3 separate regions of the Homo sapiens genome follow, and all the other regions are linked to region 2. The links come from fine-mapping of genetic effects on gene expression. A gene starts in region 2. Each other region holds a variant in brackets. All regions are shown on one strand. Distances are between the middles of the regions. Region 1 has its middle 32 kb from the start of PYROXD1. Region 2 holds the start of SLCO1A2 (solute carrier organic anion transporter family member 1A2). Region 3 overlaps SLCO1A2 (solute carrier organic anion transporter family member 1A2).

What was found.
Region 1: its variant is fine-mapped to the expression of SLCO1A2 in testis (GTEx, PIP above 0.99).
Region 3: its variant is fine-mapped to the expression of SLCO1A2 in lung (TOPMed, PIP above 0.99).

The regions. Positions count from the first base shown.
Region 1 is chr12:21,399,962-21,410,867 of GRCh38, forward strand. It overlaps a transcript of SLCO1A2 not described here. Among named protein-coding and RNA genes, the nearest start is that of PYROXD1, 32 kb to the right of the region's middle. The variant C/T (reference allele first, on the strand shown) is at 5,912.
Region 2 is chr12:21,330,171-21,341,076 of GRCh38, forward strand. SLCO1A2 (solute carrier organic anion transporter family member 1A2) reads right to left here and starts at 4,747. Exons shown (of 15, transcript NM_001386879.1): 1 at 4,657-4,747; 2 at 4,418-4,539. The coding sequence starts at 4,477. RefSeq lists an enhancer at 8,736-9,242.
Region 3 is chr12:21,289,151-21,300,056 of GRCh38, forward strand. SLCO1A2 (solute carrier organic anion transporter family member 1A2) reads right to left here. Exons shown (of 15, transcript NM_001386879.1): 9 at 8,254-8,418; 10 at 6,447-6,642; 11 at 4,795-4,960; 12 at 3,014-3,186. Among named protein-coding and RNA genes, the nearest start is that of SLCO1A2, 40 kb to the right of the region's middle. The variant CACAAAG/C (reference allele first, on the strand shown) is at 6,185.

The sequences.
Region 1 (10,906 bases), 70 kb after region 2:
ATTGGCAAGGACTTCATGTCTAAAACACCAAAAGCAATGGCAACAAAAGACAAAATTGACAAATGGGATCTAATTAAACTAAAGAGCTTCTGCACAGCGAAAGAAACTACCATCAGAGTGAACAGGCAACCTACAAAATGGGAGGAAATTTTCGCAACCTACTCATCTGACAAAGGGCTAATATCCAGAATCTACAATGGGCTCAAACAAATTTACAAGAAAAAAACAAACAACCCCATCAAAAAGTGGGCGAAGGACATGAACAGACACTTCTCAAAAGAAGACATTTATGCAGCTAAAAAACACGTGAAAAAATGCTCATCATCACTGGCCATCAGAGAAATGCAAATCAAAACCACAATGAGATACCATCTCACACCAGTTAGAATGGCAATCATTAAAAAGTCAGGAAGCAACAGATGCTGGAGAGGATGTGGAGAAATAGGAACACTTTTACACTGTTGGTGGGACTGTAAACTAGTTCAACCATTGTGGAAGTCAGTGTGGCGATTCCTCAGGGATCTAGAACTAGAAATACCATTTGACCCAGCCATCCCATTACTGGGTATATACCCAAACGACTATAAATCATGCTGCTATAAAGACACATGCACATGTATGTTTATTGCGGCTCTATTCACAATAGCAAAGACTTGGAACCAACCCAAATGTCCAACAATGATAGACTGGATTAAGAAAATGTGGCACATATACACCATGGAATACTATGCAGCCATAAAAAATGATGAGTTCATGTCCTTTGTAGGGACATGGATGAAATTGGAAATCATCATTCTCAGTAAACTATCGCAAGAACAAAAAACCAAACACCGTATATTCTCACTCATAGGTGGGAATTGAACAATGAGATCACATGGACACAGGAAGGGGAATATCACACTCTGGGGACTGTTGTGGGGTGGGGGGAGGGGGGAGGGATAGCATCGGGAGATATACCTAATGCTAGATGACAAGTTAGTGGGTGCAGCTCACCAGCATGGCACATGTATACATATGTAACTAACCTGCACAATGTGCACATGTACCCTAAAACTTAAAGTATAATAATAAAAAAAAAGACAAAAAAAAAATCAGGAACAAATAAAGGTTCCCAGCTAATATCATTATTATTCATCACTGTTGTGGTATTTCTTGCATTAGCTAATACAAGAAAATGAGAAAATGAAAATAATACATAAATACAGTAAATTAAAAACAAAATATATTTAATTATAGACAATTACTAATACTTGTAAATCACAAAAAAGTTCCTATATTGTAATTAATAAAAGAATTTGATACAGCAACATGATACAAAATATATAAAACCAAAGGCTTTTCTTTATGCTGGCAGTATAATACAAAAATTAAAATAAAAATAAAATATCATTCACAATAACAATCGAACAATAAAGTACCCCAGAAAACTTTAACAAAAATGTGCAACTGTATGAAGAAGAATACAAAATTTTATATTGAAGGTCATCTTGCATGAATTAAGAAAAATTATCATGCTTACTGGACCAAAAAACCTCCATAATATTATTAAAACCTTTATCTTTCCTAAATAAGTATAAATATGTAATGCAATTTTAATCATAATTTTATTGAGATACTAATTTTTATTTGGATTTTCCTTTATAATTTTAAATGATTTTTAATTTTAATCATTTTATATTTTGTTTATTTCTACTTTTTTGTTTGACTTAAAATTTTATATGGAAGAATAAATATGTAAGATTTACCTAAAAATATTGAAAAAGATGATCGGTACCTGACATAGGATACTAAAGCCTTCTGTGATATTAATTGGATTACAATAACATGTTATGACCACAAAAAATGTACTAGTTACTGTACAAAACTGAGTTTATAACTGTATCCAATATAAATATAAATGAAAATGTATTATATGATAAACACTTCAGCAGAAATATACATATACATAATAAATATATAATAGCTCAGCAGAGAAAGTATAGCTTCTTTAGTAAATGATTTTATAATTATAATTAGATCTTCATTCAGCAAGAAAATAGTAATATTCCTGCATAATCCATGTTTAAAGATGAAAAAGAGCAATGGATTAGGGATTTTAATGTTAAAATAAAATGTAAAAATTATGTGAAAAATAAGAGTAATGTTAGGTTAAAGAAAAACTTTTTTAAAAAAGACAAAAAAAAAAAACCAAGAAACTATAATGGAAAAAAATTGTGGAGTCTACTTCTTTAATAGTACAGATTTATACAAAGGCAAAAAGTACCATAAATAAGTTTTTAAAAAATAGAGAACATGTTTGAAACGTATATGAGAGGTGAGCTTTATAACCCTAATGTAAAATAGAGAACTTCTGCAAATTGAAAAGAAAAAGCAAACATGGGTAAATTGTATGAACTGGGGTTTATAAGAGAGGAAAATGCAAATAGACAAAAATTATTATAATCTTTTTATAAAAGATGCTAAATCTCACTGGTATTTAAGGAAATGCGATTGAAAAGTAGCACAATACCCTTATTTTTGCATACAGTTAATTAAAAATTTTTTGAAAGATTTATCACATACAATGGAATGGGGTGGAGAAGTGATGGGATTGCATATTGCAGTACACAATGTTTCTGGCATTCCACTTTTGGAAATCCATTCTGCAGAAATAGATATTCTTATCTAAGGATTTAGGGACTAACCATGATTTAGATATACATGCTGACCTAGAGGGATGTCCATAGTTCATAGTTAAATGATTACAGCAACAAGTCCACATATGTAGGTAATGATGATCCTGTATTTGTGACTAAGGGTTGTGGGGGAGCATATGTGTATAATTACATAAATCATGTATGTTTTACATGAGCATAGAAAGAAATGTAAAAAGATACGCCCAAAATTGACTTTTTTATATACTCTTCTGTTACTTAGCTTTGAAAAAATAATGTTCTCATTTTTGAATTTTAAAAGAAAACTCCAGTAGAATGTGTATATGTGAGTGTTAAGTGTGTAGATATGTATGTTATAGACAACTAATGTTCTGAGATTTCCAGAGAGAGAGAGACATGTGAAGAACACGGGGCTTGATCAGAATTTGAACGATGGTTGTGGAAGAACTGGATAAACAAAAAGGGACTTTCCAGGCCAATGACAAGGCAGGAGGAAAACAACATTATCCGGAATCATTTAAATGTACTTCTAACGCTCCAAGCCACTTGTAACTACATATTTGAAAACTCAAAATGTAAATCTGTATCTGTGCATGCATAAACAAACAATATTATTACTACCGCACAAAACAAATCCTGCATTAAATACAATTGTCATTGCTGTCAGGAATGTATAAACAAGATAATTAGAAAACCCAAAGAATCTTATACTTATAACTAAGCATTAAATCTCCTTATATTTTTCCAAGTACAAATGACTAAATTGCAACCCACAACAACCCAAATAAATGAAGGACTTTTACCTTAGCATTCACCAACATCACCATTCATTTTTGCTTCCATACTGTAAGACCAACAGATTTTTTAAAAAATTACATATTGAGTAGCCAGTATGAATAAGGCACCTCAAACGTGTAAGCTGCAGCTTCTTGTTCATCAGAGAAGCAGAGTTGTAAATAAAAGAATCTTTGTTTATGTAAGTTTTAAACCTTTGGTTAAGTTTCTTTGGCTCTGATGGTTGCATAAAGCAGGTTATAATCTTGGGAACAGGTTCTAAGATTACTGTACTCACTTGGAACCAGAGGCTCCTCCTTGCTTTTTTTTTTTTTTTTTTTTTTTGGTGGTTGTTTTTTCAAACAGTTAACTCTTACGTGGCTTTGGCTCCAATACCCTGTTGAAAAACCTCAGTTAATGGCACTAAACTTTGCTGAGCCTCAATTTTCTCAGATTTTTTCTTTCGTGATTAAGGCACCTTTAACAAGTGTCTTGTAAATCAAATATAATATGTTAATGTACTCATTGAGTAAACTGACACACATATATTTGAGCATGAGTTCAACTTTCAGTGTAGCTGGATATCTAAGAAAAAATGACACCAAAACGGGAATAAGCTTGAAAACAGAGTTGATGCGGACAAGGATATTCATTTCTATGGGATGCCACTGACATTTTTGAACAGTAGACTGAGATGCGAAAACCAGTGTCTACAGATTATTGTATCAGTAACTTTCTAGCTGGATGGGATGAGTAAAAGATTAGGGGCTATGTAAAGTAATTAGGTGGTCATATCCAGGTGTAATTTGTAATGGAGTGGATAAGATAGTTGGATTTATTTATTTTATTTTATTTTATTTTCTATTCCAGGATACATGTGCAGGGCATGCAGGTTTGTTACATAGGTAAAAATGTGCCATGATGATTTGCTGCACCTATCAACCCGTCACCTAGGTATTAAGCCCCACGTGCATTAGCTATTTATCCTGATGCTCTCCCTCCCTGCTCCCTGACAGGCTCAAGTTTGTGTTGGTCCCCTCCCTGTGTCCATGTATTCTCATTGTTCAGCTCCCACTATTAGTGAGAAACATGTGGTGTTTAGTTTTCTGTTCCTGCATTAGTTTGCTGAGGATAATGGCTTCCAGCTCCATCCATGTCCCTGCAAAGGACATGATCTCATTCCTTTTCATGGCTGTGTAGTATTACATGGTGTATATATACCACATTTTCTTTATCCAGTCTATCACTGATGGGCATTTGGGTTGATTCCATGTCTTTGCTATTGTGAATAGTGCTGCAATGAACACACACATGCATATATCTTTATAACAGAATGATTTATGTTTGTTTGGATATATACCCACTAAAGGGATTGCTGGCTCAAATAGTATTTCTGGTTCTAGATCTTTGAGGAATTATCACCGTGTCTTCTACAATAATTGAACCAATTTACATTCCCACCAACAGTGTAAAAGCATTCCTATTTGTCCACAACCTCTCCAGCATCTGTTGTTTCTTGACTTTTTAATAATCACCATTATGACTGGCATGAGATGATATCTCAATGTGGTTTTGATTTGCATTTCTCTAATGATCAGCGATGTTGAACTTTTTAAAATGTTTGTTGGCCGCATAAACATCTTCTTTCGAGAAGTGTCTGTTCATGTCCTTGGGTCACTTTTTAATGGCTTTTTTTTTTTTGTAAATTTAAGTTCCTTGTAGAGTCTGGATATTAGACCTTTGTAAGATGCATAGATTGCAAAAATTTTCTCCCATTCTGTAGGTTGTCTGTTCACTCGGATGATAGTTTCTTTTGCTGTGCAGAAGCTCTTTAGTTTAATTAGATCTCATTTGTCAATTTTTGCTTTTGTTGCAATTTCTTATGACATTTTAATCATGAAATCTTTACCCTTGCCTATCTCCTGAATAATATTGCCTAGATTTTCCCCTAGGGTTTTTATAGTTTTGGGTTTTACATTTGAGTCTTAAACTATCATTAACATTTTTCACAGAATTTGAAAAAAAACTACTTCAAAATTCATATGGAACCAAAAAGACAAGTATAGACACATATAGCCAAGATAATCCTAAGCAAAAAGAACAAAGCTTCAGGCATCATGATACCCAAACTTCAAACTATGCTACAAGGCTACAGTAACCAAAACAGCATGGTACTGGTACAAAAACAGACACATCGACCAAGGAACAGAAAAGAGATCTCAGAAACAAGACCGCACATCTACAACCATCTGACCTTTGACAAACCTGAAATGATTTCCTATTTAATAAATGGTGCTGGGAGAACTGGCTAGCCATATGCAGAAAATTGAAACTGGACCCCTTCCTTACACCTTATACAAAAATTAACTCCAGATGGACTAAAGACTTAAGTGGATTGATATTTTAAAGGGAGAAACAAGATGCAATGCTATGGAATGTTTAAAAGCACTAGCTGAACCCAGCACTAGCATGAGTAGCTGTTA[C/T]CTTGGACAAGTTAATTAACCTCATTTTTAAACATATACCACAGGATAATCATAGCACCTACCTCAAAGAGTTGCTGATGTTGTTATTTCATTCAAGAAATATTTATTGAGCACCTACTCCATGCCAAATATTTCTAGGTCCTAGAGATATTGTTATAAGCAAAAGAGTCTAAATTACTACTCATGGATTTTGTCTGGTTGAAGGAAGAAAGAAAATAAGTCAACAATTAAGATTAAGAGGGAATCCTTTTCTTTTGCTAGGTTGAATGAGTAGATATATTTAAAATGTGTGTGTGTCTGTGTGTCTGTGTGTCTGTGTGTGTGTGTATGCGTGCATGCACGCGCAACACTTGGTAACCAAGTCAGAACATTTTTTTCTAAAATCCCTTTTAGAATTTCTCAGATGTTACTTGTACTGCTTCTCAGTTGCTGATGATGAGACTTCTTTCACTATTTCCAACTATTTAAGTAGTTTGAAGGACAGACAGAAAAACATCTGCCAGTAGTGAAGCTCTATGGACAAAACCTGGGAATGGCTTCAAAAGTAAGGGGAGGAGCCCTGATCACTCCTGCCACCTCATCTGGAGTGGAAATGGAAATTTCAATCTTTCATTTCTCTTGAGAAGCTTCAAGCGGCAGGATTGTTTTCTATTCTCTGGTAAAAATTAGAGTTAACAGTTGTTGAATATTTATGATGTGCCACAGGTCATTCTAGGAACACAGGGCTGTTAACTAATGTAATCCTCTCAACAAATGTTTAAGATAAGTACTATTGTTATCCCACTTTTACAGATAGGACACAGGTACAGATAGGCTTTATCATCCCCAAGATTTCACAGCTGGTAAGCAGAAGAATGGGGATTCAGTCAGCTTCAGACCACTACACTATACTGCCTCTCAGTAGTTGATATTAGGTTAGCAAATAGATGTGAAAGAGACTTAAAATAATTTTGGAGACAGATGCATGTTCTTTCTCTTTCTTTTGTTGAAATATGTATAAACTGTTAGAATGTTCAAAGCAGTGAAGAACCAAACCACAGAAAACATATGGTAGTTTATATATCCCATCTTTTCTCAAAAGAAAACATAGACACATTGCGTATGTTCAAAAGCACCCTGGCCCCATGCCTGGCTCCCACCCATACCTACCTCCTTGTTTCACTTTTTCATCTTCTGTCAAGATCATCCAAGGCTTTTACGAAACAATTTAACAAAATAATTTCAGGAAGGCAAAAGTGCTCTGAAGAAAATCAAACAGAATGATGGGCTTGGGAGTGGACTGGAAAGATCCTTGATGAAATAATGCTTGAAATGAAATTCAAAGCATAAGAAGGAAAAAATACGTGAATATCTAGAGACAGAGCCCTTCAAGCGTGGGGATCAGCAAATGCAAAAGCCTTAGGATGGAAGGAAACAAGCTTGGCATATTTGATAAGAAGGTTGGTGTAGTTGGAGAAAGAGAGTTATCCTCACCGAGGGGAAAGAGGAACAAGATGCAGTTGGAGCGTTGAGCAGAGGCCAGGTCATGTACTGCACTATGCCCAGCAAGGAGTTAGGATTATATTCTATTGGAAATGGGAATCCATAGGAGGGTGTGAAGCAGAAAAATTACTTGATCAAATTTGTGTTTTCAAAAGGCCTATTTGGGCCAGGTGCAGTGGCATATGCCTATAATCCAAGCACTTTGGGAGGCCAAGGCAGACGAATCACTTGAGCTCAGGAGTTCAAGACTAGCCTGAGCAACATGGCGAAATCCTGTGTCTACAAAAAACACAAAAATTAGCCAGGCATGGTAGTGAGTGCCTGTAGTCCCAGCTACTCCCTACTCAGGAGGCTGAGCTGGAGGATCACTTGAGCCTGGGAAGTCAAGACTGCAGTGAGCCAAGATTGTGCTACTGTACCCCAACCTGGGTGACAGAGACCCTGTCTAATGAAAATAAAAATAAATGAAAAAAAAAAAAAAAAGCCTTTGGCTGCTCTGTGGAGACAGGACTGGCCAGGGGAAGGAAGAGTAGAGCCAAATCGCTACTGCAAAAGCCCAGGCAAGATATGGTCAATGGGTATAAGTTTGGTGCAACTGACAGTAAAAATCTGCACACATTCAGAACATATTTGGGAGAGAGCCTGAAAGGTTTACTGACTGAGCTTTTCTGGAAGTCTTTCTATAGGGGGAATGTTTAGAAAATTCTGTGGCAACTCCTCAGATAAGGAGTTGTTAAGGCACCAAACTATTTTCCCTAGTACCTTAGTTACTCTGGTAAATTTTTACACAAAATAATGTTCCTGTGACTTAGATGGGCCTGTCCAAAATACACAAAAATGCCTGTTTTATATGACAAACGAATTTATTAACCATGCATAAAGTGTTTCTAAAACACTGATAATGTCCCTTAGTCATAAAAACACATTCTTTCCTTGCTTCTTTGTGTCTATCAACCTCCCTCTTTTTTTTAATCAGAAACAATACTCTTCTTTGAATAAATATCTACCCAAGGTCATCATTCCTCCCTCAGCAACAGTGAAACATAGAGTCCTTTAAGTTGTCACTGTTGACCCTCACTCTACTCCCAATATTCAATGCGATTTCTTAACTTTCAGTACTACTTTACCACACATAATGTTGTACTTAAAGACCTGTGCTCATACTCCTCTTCAATTTGCCAGTGAGTCTACCAGAAATCCGCAACTGCCCAACGAAAAGTGTCCCAGTCCCCTTCTCTGTTGATGAAACTCAGTATCATGTTGAAGATACTAGTCCTGTAAGCTGGCAAGTAAAAGTTCTAGGCAAGCATATACATCAGGGAAGCAGCTATGAAGATGTTTGGCTGCCTCAGCGCATGCGTGTGTGTGTGTGTGTGTGTGTGTGTGTGTGTGTGTACGTGCTCCCGCACACACGCACTTATAGATAAGACAGAGAATAGTCACGGCAAAAAGTGAGCTTGTTGTCCATCCTAACAAATAGGATGGAGAAACTTATGTCCAAAGACCACCAAACATCCCCAACGCTCTTCTAAAACAACTTCCAAATAACTGGTAGAATAAAACTTTTTAAAGGCTGGTAGAATAAAACTTTCAAATTGTGCCAAACTTATAAAAAGGCGGCAGAGGTAGACAGAGTTTGTGGATCACCCTCAGAAAGGTATCCTGGGTTCTAAAAGCAACCAAGTTTTAGTTCCCAAAGAAAACTGAGAATCTTCTTTTCAAATTCTGTTACTGTTTGCTTCTCATCTCAAATTCGTAACTCTGGAGATAGTGTCACTTGATGATAATTCTGTTGGAGGGACTCCTGTAGGGTGGATCCTGAGGTTTTGCTTCTTTTCATATTGGAAGATGAAGCAACTGTTGTGGTATAACTCATTAAACTCTAAGACATGGGATAAAGACCATCTCATCATATTGGCAACATGTCGTATTCATATTCCGCCTCTATAAGATACAAAGACCAACTATTGGATAGATAGTATAAAACTAGGGTCAGCCTGTGGGTAGAATCTGGCCTGCCACCTGATTTTGTAATTAGAGTTTTTACTGGAACACAGCCACGTTCAATCATTCAAATTTTATCTATGGCTCCTTTCACAAATACAAGGTAGATTTGGATATTTGAAACAGTGATATTACATCTAACAAAGCCTAAAATATTTGTAATATAATAATATTATATTTAGACCTTTATGGAAAAATTTGCTGATCTCTGGTGCAAAACAATGCTTCTGGTAGCAGTAGTGGCCAGTTTGTGGTAGTGACTGCAGAAGCTCTAGTCAAAATTGGGACCTATGGCTAAATGGATAAATCCCAATGCAAAGTATTAAGATGAATTCACATGTCTATGGTGACACATCTACCATTCTTGTCTTTGAAAACAACCTCTGAGATCACAGTCGTATATTTGAGCTGTATGGTACACAGTCTTCCTTCAGAGTCTGCACATCCTGCTATATCACTCTAAACATCAAACACATTATGTGTGTTCTCTTCACCCCATTACACAAGTTCTTTCATCTCAATGAGCATTAATTTGTCAGGTGTGGTGTCCCATACATTTTTTCCTGTGCTCTATTTTTTTGTGCTCTATTTTTAAAATGTGGAAAGTAAGCTCTCCAGGAAATCCTTCATTTGGAGAATATTTTATTTAATGGCTCTCAGGAGCATAACATTGAATTAATCATAATCCTTGGATCACCCCCTTGTTCTTTTTCAGGCATGGTATACTTTTATTTATGAAATCTAAAACTTTGTCAATAAACCAAATCTAAGAGTCTGGCTTCCCCCACTAACCCACCACCTATCTCCTCCAGTCTGAGGAAATCTCTAGATCAATCTTGAGTCCATCACTAGTCTTCCGCTTATCATTCCCTTACTTTCAATTTTATATAGTTTTGCAATTGCATTTATGCATATTCCTAAAGAGAGAGAGAGAGAGACAGAATGCATGTGTGCCTGTGTGTATGTGTGTTTAATTGCTTTAAACTTTATATATAGAGAGATCGAGGCTATATATAACTTGAGGGAACATTTTTCTCACTCATTGCTATCATTCATCCACATTGTAACTATCCATTCATCCACATTATTATATAATTCTCATTAATTTATTGATATAGCTGTAGAATAGTATACTGGGCAAATGCACCACAATGTAGTCATCTAATTTTCCCTTTAATGAGCTTTTGGATTGTTCTTTGGGTTTTGCTATTTAGAACAGCTCCTACTATGTAAGTGCAAAAGTTTCTTCTGGGAATAGACTTGCCTGTGAAATGGTGCATCAAATGGTGTGTTAATGCTCAACTCTAAGAGGCAAATCCAAACTGTATTCTAGTAGTGATACCAATTTATGCTCTCAGCAGTAATGTGTCGGTGTTATTTAAATATACTGATATTTTCAAGGTTTTTATTTTTGTCAAATGGTTAGGTATAAAATTACATCTCATTATTTCAATGTGTATTTCTCTGATCATTAAAGAGAGTAAACATTTTCTTCATATGTTTATTGGC
Region 2 (10,906 bases):
CAAAAATTCTGTTTCTTAGTTTCAACTATTAACTTAAAAAGGCCAGACACCATGGCTCATGCCTGTAATCCTAGCACTTTGGGAGACTAAGGCAGACAGATCATTTTAGTCTAGGTGTTCGAGACCAGCCTGGGCAACATGTGACACTCCATCTCTATAAATAATACAAAATAAATAAATAAATAAATAAAAAAGCTTGGCTTTGTGGTGCACACTTGTAGTTCCAGCTACTCAGAAGGCTGAGGGGAGGATTTCTTGAGCCTGGGAGGTTGAGGGTGCAGTGAACTGAGATTGTGCCACTGCACTCCAGCCTGGGTGACAGAGTGAGGCCCTGCCTCAAAAAAAATAAAATAAAAGTAAAAAGTTACAGGAGCCAAACAAAGTTGAAGGAGAGAGTTACCATTCCAGGCCTTCTCAAAAGAGAAAAAAACTGAAGCAGTAGGGCACAGGTTCTGAGATATCAATCTAAATAATTTTAAAAAGAAAAAGATTATAGAATTCAAAAATTTTAAAGTCCTTGCATTAAGAGTAACTCAACATTTTTAATAAATCTTGTTCTAACCAGTTCTTTAGTGTTGCATGAGTGTACTTTTAATATCAAAGTTCAATTTTTAGAAAAACTATTATAATTTCCTTTAATTGTAGCCAACTGAATCACATAACATTTTAACAAATTCCTGTTTTACTAACCTTATTACAACTTACACAGACCATTTACAACATGCTTGGACTTTCTGGTTTGACATAAATATTTCTCTTTCTTGAACGAGTCATTTTATCTTAGGACAAAAATTCATCATGCAAGATTCTTTCTCATATAAAATTACTTTTCTTTTAAGCTTTCTTACCAAAAATACCTCTTTATAACTTTCTTTACATCTCTTATTTCCTGGTCCTTTTTACCTCATTTTATATATAATCCTTAAATAACCTCTGAATTAGACAAAAATAATTTACCTTTGAATAAGAACACTTTAGACCTTAAGAAGAATCTGCCCATGACTCTTGAAACTCCACAGAGAAAGAAAGGGTGAGTGATGCCTTTGTTCTGAGTGTTTTAAGGGGTTCAAGTCATTTGATGGCTTCTCTAGATTTTTTTTGGTACCAGACAGTGAAGGGGGAAGGAGAAATAGTGTGGAAGAAAAGAAAATGAAAGAACAATTGTGTTTTTAAGACAGGAAGCTGCAACAGAAACCAAGCGCATAATTTGTTTGTTTTCTTTTTTTCAGTTATGAGGAATTTTAGCAGCTTCAGAGGTCTGGCTGCTCATAATTTGGAATTCTCATTTGAATTTGGCCAAGTTGGGTACAGTTGGTCAAATCTGATGGGAGAAACACCAGAACAACAAAAAACCCCAACAATATGATTACTGAGCACTCTAATGCTAAGGAGAAATTAAGACTAGCCGGCTGTCAATTCTAATTTTTAGTCATTAAGGAGAATCGCTGAGATAAAAAAAAAAACCCAACTCAGCTACTTATCTAGGAATGAGACCCTGGCTCAAGACTGCTGTTTACCATCTTACAGGCAGGAAAAAAAAAGCTCAAACTTGCCTTCCCTGTTGGAAATTAGCTGAAACTCCAGAAAGGAGTTGCCCACGCTCCATTGTCATGGAAGCAGGAAAACTTGCCTTCTTTGTTGGACACAAGTAAAACTAAAAAATAGGAGTTGTAGAGAAAAATAAATTTTAGATCTTAACCAAATTTAGGGGATTGGGGATTCTCTGGAGTGGGTGGGGGCTCCCAGGCCTCAGCAAATTGTCCTATCAGTTTGAGCCATAAGGATAGCTCAGGCTGGTACCAAGTACCCACAGGAGATTCATCAAAGGTCAGGGGCACCTCCACTCAGAATCCTTTCATGGCTGCTAATTTGTGAACCCAAAAGTATCTGAGACAGGTCTCAATCAATTTAGAAAGTTTATTTTGCCAAAGTTAAGGCATGCCTACAGTATAGCCTCAGAGAAGTCCTAAAAACATGTGTTCAAGGTGGAGTACAGCTTGCTCTTATATATTTTAGGAAGACATAATGCATCAATCAATACATGTAAGATTTACATTGGTTCAATTGGGAAGGTCAAGATAACTCAAAGCAGGAACTTGCAGGTCACAGGTAGATTTTAAAATGTTCTGATTGGCAATTGGTTGGAAGAGTTATTATCAATAATAAAAAATTATTTCCTGTTTACAATCAGGGCTTGTGGAGACCAAGGTTTTATCATGCAGATAAAGCCTCTAGATACGCAGGCTTCATAGAGAATGGATATAAATGTTTCTTATCAGACTTAAGGTCTGTGTTGATGTTAATGATGGTTGGTTATTCCTGAATTCCAAAAGAGAGGAGGGTATAAAGAGGCATGTCCAACACCTCCTTCCCATAACAGCCTAAACTTGTTTTTTAGACTAACTTTGGAAGGCTCTTGACCAAGAGGAGGTCCATTCAGTGCTGGGAGCAGGGGGTGGGAGGGTTGAATTTTATTTGTGGCTTAGAGGCTGTATATACTGATTCATAAACTACCATCTTTCTCACTGTGTCTTCACATGGCAGAAAATGCAGTGAATCTCTCTTAGTCCTCTATTATAAAGCCACTGAACCCATTCATAAAGGCTTTACCTTTGTGACCTAATCACCTCTCGAAGGCCCCACTTCCTACTGCCATCACCTTAGAAATTAGGATTTCAACATGGGAATTTGGATGGGACACATTCACACCACACAATACATCTAAGCCAAAATTTATCAATTATTTTTGTGAGACCTAAATAGAAATTTATGTGAAAAGGACCTAGAAATTTGAATAGCATTCTTAATATGAATCAAAACTGATTGACTACAGCATAGTATGGCCATATCTCTAGCTATTTTTTATATTGAATACCATTTGTGGATATTCTCTCTTCCCACTATAAACCTTCTCAGAGTGTATTCTTAAGAGCAAACTATTTTCACCTAGTTTTATAAATCAGATTTTATATTTAAAAGCAAGTCCTACTAAATCAAGTACAAATCAAATTTGGAAAAATAATTTATTCTACTTTACATGTTAAGAAAAGAAATTAGATGGATCATGACCTCATTGCTTTTCCCCTAAAACACATGGGTTGCCTAACTAGTTTGGTTTTATTCGCAGAGTGAAAGAAATCAGTGGCTATTCTGACTCATGTCTAGTGCTAAATAATCTCTGTATTTATAAAGCTGGTCCTACTAGCTTCTAGCAATAATGCCCTTTCAACTTATTTCAACAACAAAGTTTAAAGCAAATTTGTTAAAAATAGTTCTTTCATGCTTCCTAATGAATTTTGCTTAATGAGTATATTTCTAAGTTCAGAGAAACAGAGAAACCTAACTTGCTATTAAGCAATTGCCTCTCACTTTTACCTGATAAACTTGTGCTTACAGCATTTTGTCTTAACATCCACATTAATATCTAACCTTGCTAAACTCCAAAGCAATCAAAAATTAAAGACCTCTTGTTTATAAATACCACTTGACTTTTCTCCACAAATGCTTTTAATATTAATAGCTAATATTTATTGAAAGTTTACAATATTCCAGTCATTGTTTCAAACATAAAAGAATCCTATAAGGTGGGAATGTTGCTATTACCCTTTTCAGATGAGAAAACTGAAGCACAAAAAGTTTTTCTTAATTAACATACCATTTCAGGCAAGTCTATTTTTTTTAGATTTATATCATAATTCTCCAATTTTGTATACATGTTTAAATTTCCCCAACACACATATAAATGGAAAACAAACTTCTGATAGGGAGAAAATGAGTGACAGTGTCTTAGTTTTGAAACCACTTGCAGGCACTAGCTATAGAATCAGGACAAATGTCCAGATCCCTTGGTTTATCATAAATTCAAATTTGTTTGAATATAAATGACTTTGAAGCTAGAAAACAGAATTTTCTCTGAAATAGAAAAAAAAATCAGAACAGCTGACAAAATGGCCATTTTTCTTACAGGAAATTATTGTTATGTTGCCAAAGCTTAAAGAAAACATTTGTTTTGCTGGGTAATTGCATACAAATCAACAAAGCATTTCTGTGCAATGAGCCATTTTCGGAGAGTGACTCCCACATTTCTCTGGGTTAGAAACCCTGCAAGAGTGAGCATGGCCTTTGATCCAGAAAAATAAATCCTGCCACAGTATGTGTGCCTGGAAATTTTTAGGATCCTGTCTTCCATTTAAGTCTCTCAAAGCCATTTAGGACTAACTTGCCTGAATCAATAATCCTGTGTAGACACACCCTCAGTTATAAAACCAACTTCTTTAAAGCAAGAAATTATCAATAGAACAGGCAATATGGCATTAATATTAGATCACTTCATGCAGATAGGAGCAATTTTACCAGGACTGTCGTATTTTAAAAACTAGTGTACATGCACATATATCCACATACAAAAATTCCATACCTTCAACTTGGAAAGACATCTTATTCTATGGGTTTCAATTCTTTTCTCAGTTTCTCCCATGTTGCTCTTCAGGGTGTTCCAAGCTATTTATGTTTTAAATCTTGATATGTCTTACTTCTACCCTTTCAAGCAAACAAAAAAATATGTTAAATTAACTACAAAATTGTAAAGCATCATTCTTTTGAAGTAAGTGCTGAAAATGAACAACATAATTGAAATCCATTGCATTACAAAAATACCTGGAACGCTTTAATACAGATTAGAAAATCATGGTGTTAGAGAAGATTTAGTTGTTGGTTTTCTATTTCAAAAGGTACATCAAATAACTTTAGTGACTCTTTAGTGAGATTAAAGATATTAGAATTGTTTGTTATGATCTTGCAAAATAATGGTCACATGGTTAAAAGAAAGCTTTTCACTTCTCTAGCCAAAACAAATAGTACCAAAAGACTTCCATGAAAATAGCTACTTTTAATAACACACATACTTTGAGTTGTGTTTGTACTAAAAACCTGCTTCACTAACCCTACCAAGGCTCAAAAATCTTTTTTTGGCCAGGCTCTCTTTTCAAGTTATTTGCATTCCAAGGCTTCCCTAGAGTCTCAGGAAGGGAAACACTTTCTGGGGCACTGCTGATACATGGAAACCTGGGGAGACACGGAATTTTAATCATGAAAACAACCTAGTAAAAATAACAAACAATTCTATGATCTGGAAAATAATCCCACGATTGCAAACTAAGATGTAAGACTTAGGAGATTAAACATATAAATGGGTATCTATATGTAGCTATACGTAATAGGTATAGATATATGTGGAAATATATGTACAGATGTATAACATACAGGCACACATTTTTATATGTAAAACAAAAAGTTGAATTAAACTCAAATAAATTCTACTAATCCCATCAAAGATTTTGTTTGTTTTACATCTTGAAACTAAGGCAATAATTTGTATCAAAACCAAAGTGTTTCACTTTGGCAATATTTATTCTAGTTTCTAGAATGATTTCTTAACAGTATCCCCAGCATTAATTAATTAAGTCCTTTAAACAATATCCATTTAACAAGTGATCCTGAATGGCACTAATTTTTTAAAAAACCAACTGCTTTACCTCTACAAATGTGCTGAATCCCAAACACACACACATCAAGGCATAGTCGCTGCACTATTATGTTTGAGTTTTGTTATTTTAACACATTCTCTCACAGATACAACAAATACTTATTGAACATCTACTCTGTGCCAGTCATGGTGCTACGCACCAGCATTCAGCAGTGAGCAAGAAAGCCAAGTACGTGCCTACAGAGAGTATAAACTAGCGAGAGAAGTATGTTTCTGTGGAAGATACTTGGACCCAGATTCCAAGGAACTTAAACTTTCATTGGGAAAGATAAAACTTTTAAATAAAACACATTGGAATAGAACCAGACAGTGTAGAAGGAAATGCAATTTGCTTGGTATGTAAGTGGTGAAAAAATTCACAGGTTATTGTTCTGAACTGCCCTCATTTCTTTCTTCTCGTGCATTTAGAACCCAATCTCTCTCCCCTTTTCTCTTCTCTCTCTCCTAACCATTATCTTAGCCCAATATAGTCACCGTATCAAACACTAAGGGAGAGAACTTATTCTTCTCCCACGTCAAAATTGCCTTCACTCTTCTTTGTGGCTAAAAACATTACTATATTAAATGTCTATTTTTTCATATATAGCCAGAGGGCATAAAAGCTGGAGGTAGTGCCACAGAAAATCACCATATAGGGGAATTCTATATAGTTCCCTCCATGAATTGTGACACTAAGTAACCATCTAGAGCAGGTTTTTTCACTATGTCTGGAAGATTTGCTTCAAAATGTTTTAACATATTGAAAAAAGGGGTTAAAAAACTATTATCTTAACTGAAGTAAGAGGTAATATTTAAGGCTAAGCACTTGAAAAGAATTACATGGGATTAAATTAACCCTAAACTTTCCCTAGTTTTCCAACTTATATGATGAAAATATTTTATATTTTCAGATACATTTCAAACATCTTCATGGAGGAAAATAAACAAATTAACAAAATCTATTCCATTTATTCAATAAAAATCCATAAAATCCAACGGTTAATATCATAGTCATTGTTGTCCATCTTGGCCCCAAATCAGGAAATTCCGTGTGCCGTCTTTTCATCTTCTCGAGGCTGTGCTAGTGCCAGCCATGTGAACAGTCCTCTTTTGTTAGCACAGTGTTGTTTACACAGTGACTTCTGCTCCCAGGACCACACAGTGTCACCAACAAATCCCTGTCAATCATCACTTCTAATGAAAAAGACATGCTGAAGTTTTATTAAGTGGAGAATCATGTTATTTCCCTAACTCTTTCTCAGCATTCAAATGGGAACAGGTAATGCTTCAGTATGCTTTCTCACACAAACGTTGGATTTCTTCCATGCCTGCTGGTCATAGCTCTGTGTTGTGTTGTTTTTCTGTTTGATTGGGATTTTAAAAAACACACAAATAAGAGGAACTCTACTCTCTTACATTTTTAAGTGCACAGTACAGAATTGTTAACTATATACACATTGTTATGTAGTAGATCTCTGGAACTTGTTCATCTTGCATGACTGTAATTCTATATCCATTGAACAGCAACACTGGGGCTTTTGACACCTGTTGGCTTCCAGCCCCTAATGATGTGTCTCAATCACAAGATAATACAAAGTTTTATAAAACAATAATACAAAGTTTTATGAAACAAATATAAAACAAATCTTGTTTGTGCTCTTGCAGTATTAAACAAATTAATATAGTTTGTGATTGTTAGAAATCAACTGGGAAAAAATGCTTGTGTTTAATTTTACATTATTCTCTACTCTCAAATTAATGAAATAAAGGCCTTACTTTACAGCAAAGCTAGTAGTACATACATGAAGAAGACTTAGGAGATCATCCTTTCCCTAGGGAAAAAAAAAATTTACACTAGCAAAAATCTTATGAAAATCACTTATTTCCAGGATCTTGAAATGGCTCCTAGCTCTGTGAGACAAGAACAGCCTCTTGGGTGGTATCCAGCTGAAACAATTTCAACCAATACTAATCCAAGCAAGTATGTGCCAATGAATTACATGTAGAATCAACAATGGCTTTTTGTATTTTGTCTACCAAATTATTTTACTTCTATTGGTTCATTTTCACCAGAAACTAAAGAATAAAATAATAAATTCTGCAATTCAGTCTTATAAATATAAGTATTATTTTACTTTCTAGATTCAGAGGAGGTACTAAGAATGTATTGCTTGGAAAAACTATGGCAGAAACTTAACTGAGCCATAAAATGTTATCCATACATGTGATTTCACCATGCAAAGCAAAGACTGGAACTCACAAAAACACAAGTAAACACTTTCATCAACAATCCATCAGTAAAAATACCTACCCTATCACTTTAGATAATGTACTAACTCTAGATAATAGACCAAGCAACAGAAAAGTAAAGTTGAAACCTGAATTCTGTGTTTAGGGGAATTGGTTGTAAATATCATCAATGTCACACACCATACCAAGTAATTCTAGAGAATGAGTAGATAATCATGTGGCTAACCAGCATTTTCCACACTTGATAACAGGATGAACTCCTTTACCTAAGTCTAGTTCTGACTCCTCTATGTGCTCTAGGCCTCAGTCTTGGTGTCCAACCCTCTACTGCCTAATTGTAGTGAGAATCTTGCTAAGTCTGTTTGGAGAGAATCCCTCACTCTTGATATCTGATCATCTTGATAGTTGATCAAATTCTACATCCCCCGGAACCCCCCAGGCGATATCTGATCATCCTGGCCTTCAGTCAGTAAAAATCCTGTCACATTGGTTTAGCCACAATCCCTCCTTACTCCCGATGTTTCCTCTTAGTAATTTTCCATCCCCTGGCCCCCACCCTGCTGCTTGGCTAAAAATCTCCATCTGTCCAAGCTATATTCGGAATTGAGCCCAGTACTACACTGAGGTCTCTTTTCTCCTATCGCAGTAGTCCCTTAATGAAATCTTTTACCACTTTACTGTCCAGCTCTGATTTTAGTTTGGCAGCAATATCAACTATGTCATTTCTTCAGATTATTATCCCAATTCTTATTTTCCTTTTATCTGCGTAGACTAGGTAAGTACAAACATATGTATTTCCATTACGTGCCAATATATGGCATGTAAACACTGAGCTGCTCCTTTTTCTCATAGAGACAAGACTTTATCTGTTTATAAGGCTCAAAAAAAAACCTGAAAATTCAATAAAATGATTTGAGTTTTTTCCAACACATTTATTTATGTATTTTTCACATAAATTTATGTAGGGAGGCAGCTAGACATAGTCAAAATAGCAGACCTTGTAATCCACTTAGCCTAGCATTAATAGCAGATTAATTGTGAGCTGTTTAAACTCTTTGAGCCTATTCCTCATCTCTGATATTGAAATATTTATGACTACTTTGCAAGATTGTCATGAAGATTGAGTTATAAAATTTACATAAGACTCCTTGCAGGGCTGCTGAAATAAAATAGTCACTCTGTCAATGACAGTGATTACTACTCATTTATTCTACAAATATTTATTAAGAATCCACTACATTCCAAGCACAGTAGTAGGTACTGGGGATACAAAGATGAATAAAATGTGCCTGCTCTCAAGTGACCTTATAAACAATTGGGAGAGATAGATAGTTAAGTGATGATGATAGCTAGTTAGTGCCATAATGCAGACAATTTGAGCTAAGTAATAGAAAGAGGTGATTAATGAAAACTATTCATTTGGGTATTCATTTGAACGATCACTTGATTGCAGCATAGTAGTTCAAATACTTGGGCTTTGAAATTAGGTACAACTGGTTTGAAAGCCTGTTTTTAAACTAGCCGTGTGTTTTTGTACAAGTTACTTAATATTTCTACAAAATGAAGACAGTCTCTATCTTTGTCAAGGTCCTGATAGGAAAATAGAACTCATAATAGATAATTTAATAGAGGGATATTATATGGAAAACTAGTTATAATGATATAAGAAGAGCTAAAAAAAATTGTGGGATTGTGGGCAACTCAGAGATTTACAGCAGTGGAAAGTCACTCCCACTCCAAAGGCTATATCAGAAAAGGGAAGGGCTGACATGCAGGAAGCTGTGAGAGGCAGAAATACCTTGCTTTCCCCTTCTCCACAACCCCAGTCTCACACCAGTACTTCCCACTGACATACATAAAAGGAAGTCAGGTGGCATTGGAGTGGAAAACTTAGTTTGCAGGAGTTATTCTCTTGGGATACAGAGAGGATCAGAGGATAGGAGAGAATGGGTGTGAGGCCAGATAAACAAATGACCAACACAACCATAATCATTGCAATAGAGTTAGATGAAAGATGTATGGTATATAAACATATAATATAAAATTAGCATGCAATCAACATTGAATGAAGGGTCGCTATTCATATTTAACAACATAATTTCAGTCCTCAATGCTCTTCTGATTCTCAGTAAGAAAAAAATTCAGGAGATTTACAATGTGCATAATTGGTCAGCTCCCCACTTTACATATGCAGGCATTGCAATTTCTATGTCATACCAAATAAAACAAAATGTTGTTGTCAAATCAACTGATTTTTAACCAACCTGCATACATTAACTAATCACTGTTGCATCATGTAAACACAGTCATAGTCACCAAGTCTTCACATAGCAAAATATATACAGTTTGCTTATTTAGGTTATGTGTGTGGGGAAAATGTCCAAGGACTGACTTGATGATACATACACCGTATTTGTTACCATTGCTTTGTTACCAATGCTTCAGCAGCCAGATTACAAACAGTACATAATTTTGTAAGGCATATAAAAATGAATAGTAAAATGTTTCCACGTTGGAAGAAGAAAAAGAGAAAAGGAAAAGATTAATATTGTTTCTCATTTTTAGTATTTGCCTCCGCATATATTTAGCTCCATTAGCACAGCACGCCTTTCCTCTCCATACCCCAGTCACTCATGTGGGTAACACTGACGTAATCCAGTGACCACATGGAAAGTCCTTCTATTTGGAGTTTCACTATGAGGAAATCCACTTGCCATTGGATCCTCTAATTTAAGCCACATTTCCTACTATGAGCTTGCCTAGTGGTAAAATTGACACTTTGGACTCCACGTGCAATACTTGTCTGTCTCGGGTTTAAAATGATTTACAATTAAGATGGAGAAAGAAAGGTGGTATTTACTAAGCACTTTCAAAGACCCCAACATATAAGAAAAGGATGAAGAGGCAGCTAAAGGGCTAGCACCAAGTTGGAAAGACACAAGCTTTAATATAACATACAATGTGATGTTGCTTTTTGTAAAACTATATACAATTAGAGATAATAATAAAAATATAAACAATATATACTGCTTTCCATATTCCAAGCACTGTTCTAGGGGCATTGCAGATATCAACCCATTTAATTCTCCTAAAATCTTATGACATAAGTATTATTCCCAACTTTAAAGATGT
Region 3 (10,906 bases), 41 kb before region 2:
ATATTGTACATTTGTGATGGTAATGGTACCATTCTGTGTGTGTGTGTGTGTGTGTGTGTGTGTGTGTGTGTGTGTATGGCATCACTAGAAATATATTTGGTCTTTGTCCCTAGCTTCTGACACGTGTCCTTGGAGTTCTTAGAATTCCCTTGGAACATCCTGAGTGATAGGAATGTATTTTGTCATTCTTAAGGAGATTGTTTTGATCACACCTGAGTCTATAGTAATGAGACGACAGGGTGGCCTCCCAGACTGATGTTGGGACTGGTCACCAGAAAGACCAAGTTATTAGAAGATTGGAATTCTCAGCCCCACACTCAGACCTCCAGGAGAATGGAGTGGGATGTGTGTGCTGAAGATCAAGCTCCCTAAAAGCTCTTGAACTAGGAGATTTGATGAGCTTCTGAGTTGGTAAACATATCCACATGCCAGGAGAGTGGCACACCCCAACTCCACCCTGGTTTCCATTTGTGTCTTTTATAATAACCTTCATAATAAACCAGTAAATGTAAGAAAAGTGTTTCTTCCCTGAGTTCTGTGAACCATTCTAGAAAATGGAGGCATCAACCTTAATGCATCGTTTGTCAGTCAGAAGCCCAGGGTAAAAAAAAAAAAAAGCAGCCCAGGGTGTCTGGACTTGTGATTTTGTGATTGACATCTAAAGTGGGGGCAGTCTTGTAGGACTGAACCGTTTAACTTTTGCCATCTGATGCAAAGTCTATGCAGATAGCACTAGAATTGCATGGAACAGTAGAACACCCAGTTGGTGTTGCAGAATTGAACAGTGTAGGAAAATAATACACACATCTGGCTATCAGAAGTGTTCTGTTTGAATAGAGAAACCGTTTGTTTTTCTCAGTGTGTGTGTGTGTATGTATGCGTGTGTGTATGTATCTGTGTGGCTGTATGTACATATGTGTGTGTGCATATAGAGACATATATATGTATATATGTGCATATATAATTTATATATTTATATATAGTACTTAAGAAGCAATCTAATGGCACATCACCTTTATGAAAAATTTTTAAGAACTTTAAGGATACAAAGGAATATTTAAGCAAATGACAGGATATTACATGTTCAAAAATATTTGATGTCAGATTTTCTCCAAGTAATCTATGGAATCTACACAAACTCAGTCAAAATTCTTATGAAGATATAAAGATCCACAGACAGCAAAATAAGTTTGAGAAAGAAAGAATAAAGGAAAAGTGAAGATGGCAGGTGGGTGAGGCAAAGTTACCATATGAGATATTAACATTTGCAAGGCCAAAGTAATTAAATCAAGGTGACGCTGGTATGGGAACAGGCAAATAAATCTGTGGAGCAGAATAAGGATGAAAAATAGACTCACTAATTATAAAAACTTGAGATGGTGGCACCACAAATCAAAGGAAAAAGGACGTATTATATACACTATGATTTTGGAAAACAACTTTATTATTCGGAGAAAAATAACACTGGATATCTATGTCCCTTAAACCACATATAAAAATAGATTTGAGATGGCTTAAAAAACTATGCAAAAGGTAAAGCGGGAAAGCCAGGGGGGAATAAAATTTAAGGGAATATTTTTATAAGTTAGAAATGTGGAAGCAATTTTAAAAATGTGACTTCTCTTCCAAATACACAAACACTAAGGTAAGAAACTTGTTAGATTTTAGTACAACAAAATTTAGGATTTCATTTCATAAATGGCACTGTAAAAGTTAAAAGAAAGAAGACAGACTAAGTGAAGATAATTGTATCATATAAACAGTATTACATTAATATCTGTAATTTACATAGTAATCATCAAATTCATCAAGAAAAACATAGGATGCAGGAAATATAATGAGTAAAGTGGGTAAAATAAATTGAATAAGCATCATGAATAACTTTTAGCTACAAAGTTATTTGAAGAGATGCTTAAGCTCAGTGTATCAGGACATCACATATTGACACATCAATGAGCTATCATTAGTATTTTACACCCATTGGATTAGTCAACATCACAAAGTTAGATAATTCTAACTCTCATGCAGTGATGATATAAAAATTACTCTAAATAGGACTGGTGAATTTATCTATGCATCTACCTTATGAATCGGAACAAGACTTAACACCACACCACCATTGTTGTGAATATAAAAACAGATGCACACAAAAAATTCTAATATTTTACAAAGGAAATACATATTTAAGACATCTATCTGTCATACTTAAGTGAGCAGCTATGGTGACTGGAAGTAGGGAATTGAATAGAAATAAATAAATAAATGAAGTAAAATAAGAGAGAATCCTTGCACTGGCCTATGATGATAATGTGTTATGACTTGAGCATTGTGATTAACTGAACTCTACTTTAGAGCTCCAAAAGAAGAAGAAAAAGAGAGAAAAAATGCAAATTATGTTCAGGATTGTTTACTAGGCACAAAGACTGGTGTAGTTGAAAGAAGATTTATTTAATATACCTAAATTTGAAAACTGGCTCTGCAATTTCCTAGTTTTAGAAAGTCTTTCAGCATTGATGTCTCACAGTAGCCTTGTAAGAGAGCCAAGTATTTATTATTATGCCCATTATTATTAAAGAAAAATGGAGCTCAGAAAGATCAAGTGACCTTAGCGAGATGGGGGCTTCTGACAGCTTTGCACTGCTGTCCTATAGGTTGAACCCTAGGAAATGGCTGCTAGGCACCCACTCTTTACCTATCAAAATGGCCATTTTATACGGCCTACCCTAAGATATAAATGTGTCTCTTTTGTCACAAAATGAGAGGTCCACTCATTTAACTCTAAGAAATAAGGAAGAAAAGTAGCGAGGAATAGGAGTGAAATGCCAGCAGATGAACATGTGCATTGCTAACTTTAAAATTTTGTGAAATCCAACAATGCTTAATACAAAACCCTTAATAAATGGTACGTTAGAGCACTGAGTTCTTAGATACTGAGTCCTGAGTGACTTTCTTAGAACAAGCTACCTTAATAAATGACCCCAAAAAAATATAAATAAAGAAAATAATTTTGTACCTCAAGAGAACCATATATCCAGGTATGGCAGCCAAAGAATAAATGAAACTGCTCATCGCTGACAAGATTAGGAAGTACTGGAGCATCAAGGAACAGTCAGGTCCTTTGTCGCACAGCCCAAGAACTGCAGATGAATTTCCTGATGTTTGAATACAGCTGCAATTTTGGAACACCTGCCAAAAAATAACATATTATACTAAGAAGTAAAAATCTTGAACACAAATTTTAAACATTTTCTACACAGCCAGTTGGATCAAGATGGAGACTGCTTGTTCCCTTTACTCCATCTCCATTATGATGTCTCTCAAGATTACACCATATAACAAAACTGGAAGGGTGATTTCAGAAAAACGGTATATTTTTCTAAATATGAATAGTAAATTTGTAATAACTAATAAGTTACCCTAAAGACACACTTTTTTATTATTTTATTTATTTATTTATTTTTTTGAAACAGAGACTCACCCTGTCGCCCAGGCTGGAGTGCAGTGGTGCGATCTCGGCTCACTACAACCTCTGCCTCCCAGGTTCAAGTGATTCTCCTGCCCTAGCCTCTGGGGTAGCTGGGACTACAGGCGCCTGCCACCATTCCCAGCTACATTTTGTATTTTTAGCAGAGATGGATTTCACCATGTTGGCCAACTGGTCTCGAACTCCTGACCTCAGATGATCCACCGGTCTCTGCCTTCCAAAGTGCTGGGATTCCTAGGTGTGAGACACCGCGCCCAGCTAATACACTTTTTAAAACAGTGTTTTGATACAACACTACATTGGACAAACAAAATCTGTTTCAGAGTGCTCAACTGAAATATTTAGATGCTTACAAATAAAGCTTTGCTTCAAAGGAATAGTTTATTTCAGCAGGGCGCAGTGGCTTACGCCTGTAATCCCAGCACTTTGGGGGGCCAAGGCAGGCGGATCACAAGGTCAGGAGTTCGAGACCAGCCTGACCAACATGGTGAAATCCCGTCTCTACTAAAAATACAAAAATTACCCGGGCATGGTGGCATGTGCCTGTCATCCTAGCTACTCAGGAGGCTGAGGCAGGAGAATCGTTTATACCTGGGAGGTGGAGGTTGCAGTGAGCCGAGATCATGCCACTGCACTCCAGCTTAGGCGACAGAGTGAGACTCCATCTCAAAAAAAAGAAAAGAAAAGAAATAGTTTCTTTCAAAAAAAGAATTGTCAACCTTTTTTGAATTGTTACATGTTTCCAGGTCTTAATAAGAATCAAAATTTATAGTTTACTTTGATCACCAACCAACGTTATATTAATATTACAATTGATGTTATATTATATTGTGATATCTTAGAGGCAAGAGAACATTCCTAATTCTAAATTCTCAAAGAACTGTCAGAATGTGAAAAACACAGAAAGCACATCCATACATATACACAGAAAAATATATATATATGTGTGTATATATATATGTATATATATATAGCAAAGCAATTAGCTGGACAATTGAAATCAAAACCACCAACTTTATTTCAATGATAAAATTTTTTTAGTCCAGAGTATTTACAACCCAAATTATTTGAGTAATAATATAAACTTCTTGGAAATTTCAGATCACTGGTCAGATGCTATGGAGGTTTCACATAAGATCTGGGAAATAAAAGGTAATCAAGTGACCATCATAGAGTTATTTTTCCACATACAAAAAAAGTAATATGGTTTTGAGGAAACACTAATTTTACTTTTATTAAATATAGGCCCAGTTCATAGTTGGGAAGTACCAATGCAACTCAAAAAAGTTCTGTCAAATAGGATGTCTTACCATGTTTATTCCCGTTCCAATGGATGTCTCACAACCAGCAAGACAAGCTGACAGATATGACAAGCCATTGTTTCCACACACAGGATCCCATATTTTAGATGGACAGTTGCAATCCACATTGCAATCAGCAAAGATGTCATTTTCCACATATAAATCTTGTGGAATTCTGAAGTGATTTAAAATAATGCCATAGATATTAAAAGAGGATTCAATCCTTTTTTTCTTCTTTTCATCTCAATCCCCAGTTAGATTTCCTCTCCTCCCATGAATAGAAAGAGAAATTTTCCAGTCATCAATGTGTGACCTGTTTACTATAGCTTTGGTATAAAAGAGACCTGCTTTGATGACCACATAGCCACTCCTTCAATGATTTATCTCAGAAGAATATATAGGCAATAAACAAGCATTAATTGAGCACCTACCATGTGGAGTCATGTTTTCACATACTATTAGATCTCGAAAGATGAAGATGAACTAATCTCTGTGATTCATCCATTAGGTAGCAAATAGCAAGACAGGACTAGCATGAAGATAAAAATCTGAAAGTTCCATTTGTAATATAGATAATACATTTAGCTCCAGAAACATAGGTATTTGAATTAAAGAAGTGCATTCTACTAATATAAAAAGTGACCAGTGCTTGTAATATGATTGAAAGAGCACTTGCATAGCAGTTTAGAGACTGCATTCAGACTAGATCACAGTGCGACTTTCTACACATTCTGTCTGGGAATCAGCATCATTGGAGATGGAGGCAATCTTTAAAATTTATTCCAATTTTAAAATCCATTTCTATATTGATGTAGTTGAAGAGATTTGAAATGAACTGCTTTTATCATTAAATTTCTCTGAATCTCAATTTAATCTGTAAAGTGGAGATAATAATGCTTATCTTAGATGAAGCTCATGAGTCTCAAATCAAATAGCATATGTAAAATTATATTACTATTTTACATTTGAAATTATTTCAATCTAATAAACCTTGATAATTTTGAAAAAACATTTTAGGATGTTCTTTATTTCATTTTAACTGATAGCTTGATTGTCAAAATACGCCCTACAGGTGAATTCTTTTAATGTACATCACTATGGAAAACATTTCAGTAAAACCCAGATAACCTTTAAAATACAAAATATGAAATGATTCAATATTTTAGACATAGCAATATAAATGAAATATATGAATTATGTATTAATTAATTTATCATGTATTATGATTTAGTTATGCCAAACTTAAGCCCATTGGGGAAACATATAAAGGCCATTTTGACTGTATAATCAACTCTTAGTTTTACTCAGTTATGGGAGTATAAGATATATGGATAACATATTTTAATACAACCTGAAACTGTAGGTAGTTTCTTTCATAGGATAATGTCTACTCGGATAT[CACAAAG/C]ACAATCATGCACACACACCCACATGCACATACAATCATAAATTCACTCACCCTGTGATATGTTCCCAACCTCATTAATAAGCCTAGAGCTTGGATAGATTGGCTTGATTGACAGATGGAGGAAAGATACAGGAAAAGCATGGATTACTATCATTAACTCCAATAAGAAAATGATCTGATCGTGCATTGCCATTGTAAAAAATATCATATTAACCATTTGTTGAAAGATTCTCACATTCATTAGAAAACAACATACCCTTCATAAGAGGTATTTATTCCAACAACTGAAGAATTTTCACAAGTCATGAGAAAAGATAAAAAATAGAGAAGATACTCAAGTAAGGATAACCAACATCCTATGTGGGCAGCTTGTTTGACAGTAATCTTGAACTTCTTCATAATTAAACCACCAATTATATATCCAATACATATTGGAGGTAAGTTATAAATACCTATAAATGCAAATAAAATATTATTTACAAAATGACTTACCAAAGGAACAAATATGTTATCACTTTTATGTAATATGCCTTATATAAGTAACTATTTAGGTCCAACTCATAGTGAAGAAGAATGATTTAATTTTATCCCCACTTAGTTACACATTACCCACAGGGAGATTTTGAAATGCCCCCATAATGGGGAAGTATATTTTGGGAGACTCTTGTTATTATATTATCATTCATTTAACTCATTGCAGTAGCTTGTGAATTTCTTATAGGCAGAGATCATGATAAAAATCTCTTTTCTTAGGATCCAGGTAGAAGTGGCAAGTCAAAATTGGCCAGTAATTTATTCATTTATTACCCTCTATTCTGTGTAGTGAGAATATATATATACAATTTTTCAGTTACCTATCCTCACTTTGGTTGTGAAGAATTAGACTCCTCTCAAAGTGCTTTTTCTTTTCTTTTTTTAGAGACAGAATCTTGCTTTATTGCCCAGGCTGGAGTGCAGTGATATGATCATAGCTGACTGGAGCCTCAGCTTCCTGGGCTTAAGAGATGCTCCCACCTCAGCCCTCTAAGTAGCTGGGACTACAGGTGCACAACACCACACCTGGCTAATTTAAAAACAAAAATTGCAGAGACAAAGTCTTGCTATGTTGTCCAGGCTGGTCTTGAACTCCTGGCCTCAAGTGATCCTCACTCCTCAGCATCCCAAAGTGCTGGAATTAAAGGCATGAGCCACCACACCCAGTTCAAGGTACTTTAGAGAGTCACTTTGCTGAGCCTGTTGCTGTCAAGTGTATTTACATTTCATGTCTTGCTGCTACTGGCTCTTCCTCTCTGAACCCTTCCCAATAAGTGAAAAAAAAGAATAGAAAAAGGAGAAGATAGCCCTAGGTTCCATCTATACAATGTGAGCATCTGGCTCCCCGAATCATATTATTGAGAGAGCTTGTTAAAAATCCATTCCAGAGCCCCACGCCCTAGAGTCTGATTCAGTGTGTCTGAGGGGGAACCCCAGGTATTTGAAGCTTTCACAAGCACTTTAGGTAGTGTGGATACAAGTAGCCTGGGATATTGACTTTTAAAAACAGTGGAAAGATCCCAGGAAAAACCCAAGTTAGGCTAAAACCACTGAGGTTAGTGTGGTTGCAGGAAAAGCCGAATGTGTGTGGCTGCAGAGACACCTAAAACCACTAGGGGGACCAAAAAATTAAATTAGGAGGAACATAGAATCCTTGAACTGGAACCAAAAAGAGTAAAATTTGGTAGTAAAATGCACAATCCTATCTGAAAATATGTAATTTTTGCACTCCCAAATATTTGCATTCATATTATGAATTCACATTCTGACTTCAGAGAGAAGAAAATCAAGGTATTTCTGACCTCTTCCCTTCCCTACCCTTTCTTTCTTTCCTTCTTTCCTTCCTTCTTTCCTTCCTTCTTTCTTTCTTTCTTTCTCTTTCTTTCTTTCTTTCTTGAGATTAGAAGGAAGAAATCCACCAGAGTCAAAAAATATCCTAAAACACTTCAACTTAGGAGTTTGCTACACCCGCCATCACACTGTTCGTGGGGGGGAAAGTGTGCTAGTAAGGCAGAGAAAAACAAACATACCCATTAGAAAGATTGCATCTGAAGATGATATTCCATATTGCTGTTCTAGGTATTTAGGCATGAAGGAGATCATGTTAACGAATGCATTGAACTGTATCACACTTACAAGTATGAAAAGCATATAAATTGGATTGCAGGAAAGACTTTTCATGAAAGGTAGAAAATCTGAAATGAAAGAATGACAACTGTGTCAAACGAACTTGGCTTTGCATTTTGTGACTGGCTTTTCCTGAAACATCCACCTCCTCAACAAATTATGTTTTTTACTATTTTGTAATATGTATTGTTTGCTAATTCTTTTTTCCCCTTGAAAGCTGAAGTCATAGCAATGTTTTGGTGGCTTCTGGAAGTCAGTGATGTAGCTGACTGGGTAGGGATCAGAACACAACAGTTTTGCCCTCAATAAGTCACTGTTGAGTCTTAAAGATCAGTAAGCAAAACTACAAAGTGACCAAAATATTGTCTACGTCCACAGCATTTTATTACTAACCTTTTGTTCTTCTATTAATATATTCTTTTTTCTACAGCTCATTAGAATGAAAGATGCTTGTTCTGTTCTGTAAAGTCTGGAGGAAAATCGAGTTGATAAAGAAGATTTCACACAAATATTTATTTTATCACTCCCTGAACATTTGAAATAAAGATGTGTGGGAATTAATGAGATATGAATGTTCTCAAGTATCCGGAATTTTTTTTTGCTTCTTCAGAACAACAGTTTCAGTGGTTCTGCCATTGGTTCTCAGCAAGATCTACCTGGAGATATTTTTTAAAATACCAACATCCAGGTCCCATCCTCAGAGATGCTGATTCATTTGGTACATTCTAAGGACTATGTAAATGATTTAATCAAAAATGATTCCTGTTAGAAAAAGCACAGAGCCAAATGTGTGGCCTGCCTCTAGTAATGTTTGGCCTGCTTCTAGTAATGTGTGGCCTGCCTCTAGTAATGTGTGGCCTGCTTCTAGTAAATGTTCTTGGTCACACTGCTACCATTCAGGCTCAAGTTCTCACTTTTAATTTCCTTTCACTTTTCCTGTCCACATGTTCTCTGTCTTGACTTTCTTATGCACAATCTTGGTTTGCTTAATAAACTGCTCACAATTCATTCTGGAACAAAATTTCAATAAATAAACAATTTAGAAGAGGAGGACACACAGATTAATGCAAGTAAATGAGTTATAATTGTAAAATTTATATTTATGAATAGGGTACCTGACAGGAGAGAGAGTTATCTGAAGATTTTTAAGTCACCCATGTTTGTTGACATCCCTGTCCTAATAGATGAGTTTCAGTAGCACAAGTTTCTTTTCTATGTCTTGCAACAAGCTAAGCTCTTTCCTAATTTTGAAAATGGAACTGATCTTGCAGACTGCAAGAGGTCTATCAGTCCATAACAATCCTTTAAGAAGAGTTTTTAATATCATCAGAATGATTCTGAGAATTTGCAAGATTCTGAGTTGGCTCCTAATGACCAAAGATGTATTAAATTATGCTCAATTATGATTTAAGAGAATTTACAATTGTTAAGAAAAATTCTATGCAAATTGACATTGTAACTTATGGGTGATGATAGAAACAACAATGACAACATAAAAGTACTAACACTAGTATCAGTATTAATAATAATGTGTGCTAGAATGTCTTTTACCTTCACACAACAATTCTATAGTAAGTACTATTATTATCCCCATTTGACAGAAAACTGAGACCCTCACCATCCGTCAAATAAACATTTTTAAGTTCCAATAGCCAGGCTGCACATCCACACTAATTAAATCTGACCTTTTGGGAATACTACAGAACTTTCAGGCATCAATCATTTTTAAAATTTCCTAGGTGATTCCAATGTGCAGCCAAGTTTGAGCATCAGTGCTCTTGAGTACTAAATACTTAGGCTATCTTAGTTTAGTTTCCCACAGAAAAACCTTCTGTAAATTATACTTTGAGCTTTTATTGAGGTTCTGTACCAAAAAAAATGTTACATGCAATTTACCCTTTCATTTGCTGGAAAACCACTATGTGGCTCAATATTACCTGTATCATGTATCTTATGATCATTTTTAAATTTTTTTACAATTTCTTCCTTGGAGAACTGCTTCTGTTTAAAAATTATTATTCTTCCCTCTACCAAGTATAGAGAGGTGGGTCACCGATCATGTTTTTTTTTTTCTTTCTGATTTAACTTCCAGGAAGCTCTTCGTTAAACTAACACACTGGTTACAAAACTATACTACCTATTAAGATTAGAGTATACTTTTTCCTACTTTTGTTCTTAGTTTAAATTTGCTTGTTCATTTTGTTTCAATTCAACCTATGTTCTCTGTAAAATCGGTTTTTTGAGCAAATGGGACCATATATATACGTGTGTATATATATATATATATATACACACACACGTATATATATACACACACACATATACACACACATATATGTGTATATATATACGTGTATATATATATACGTGTGTGTATATATATATACGTGTATATATATATATACGTGTGTGTATATATATACATGACCCTCTCTCTCCTCTCTCTCATATATATATGTGTGTGTGTACATATATATGTGTATATATGTGTGTAGATATATGTGTGTGTACATATATATGTGTATATATGTGTGTATATATATATGTGTGTGTACA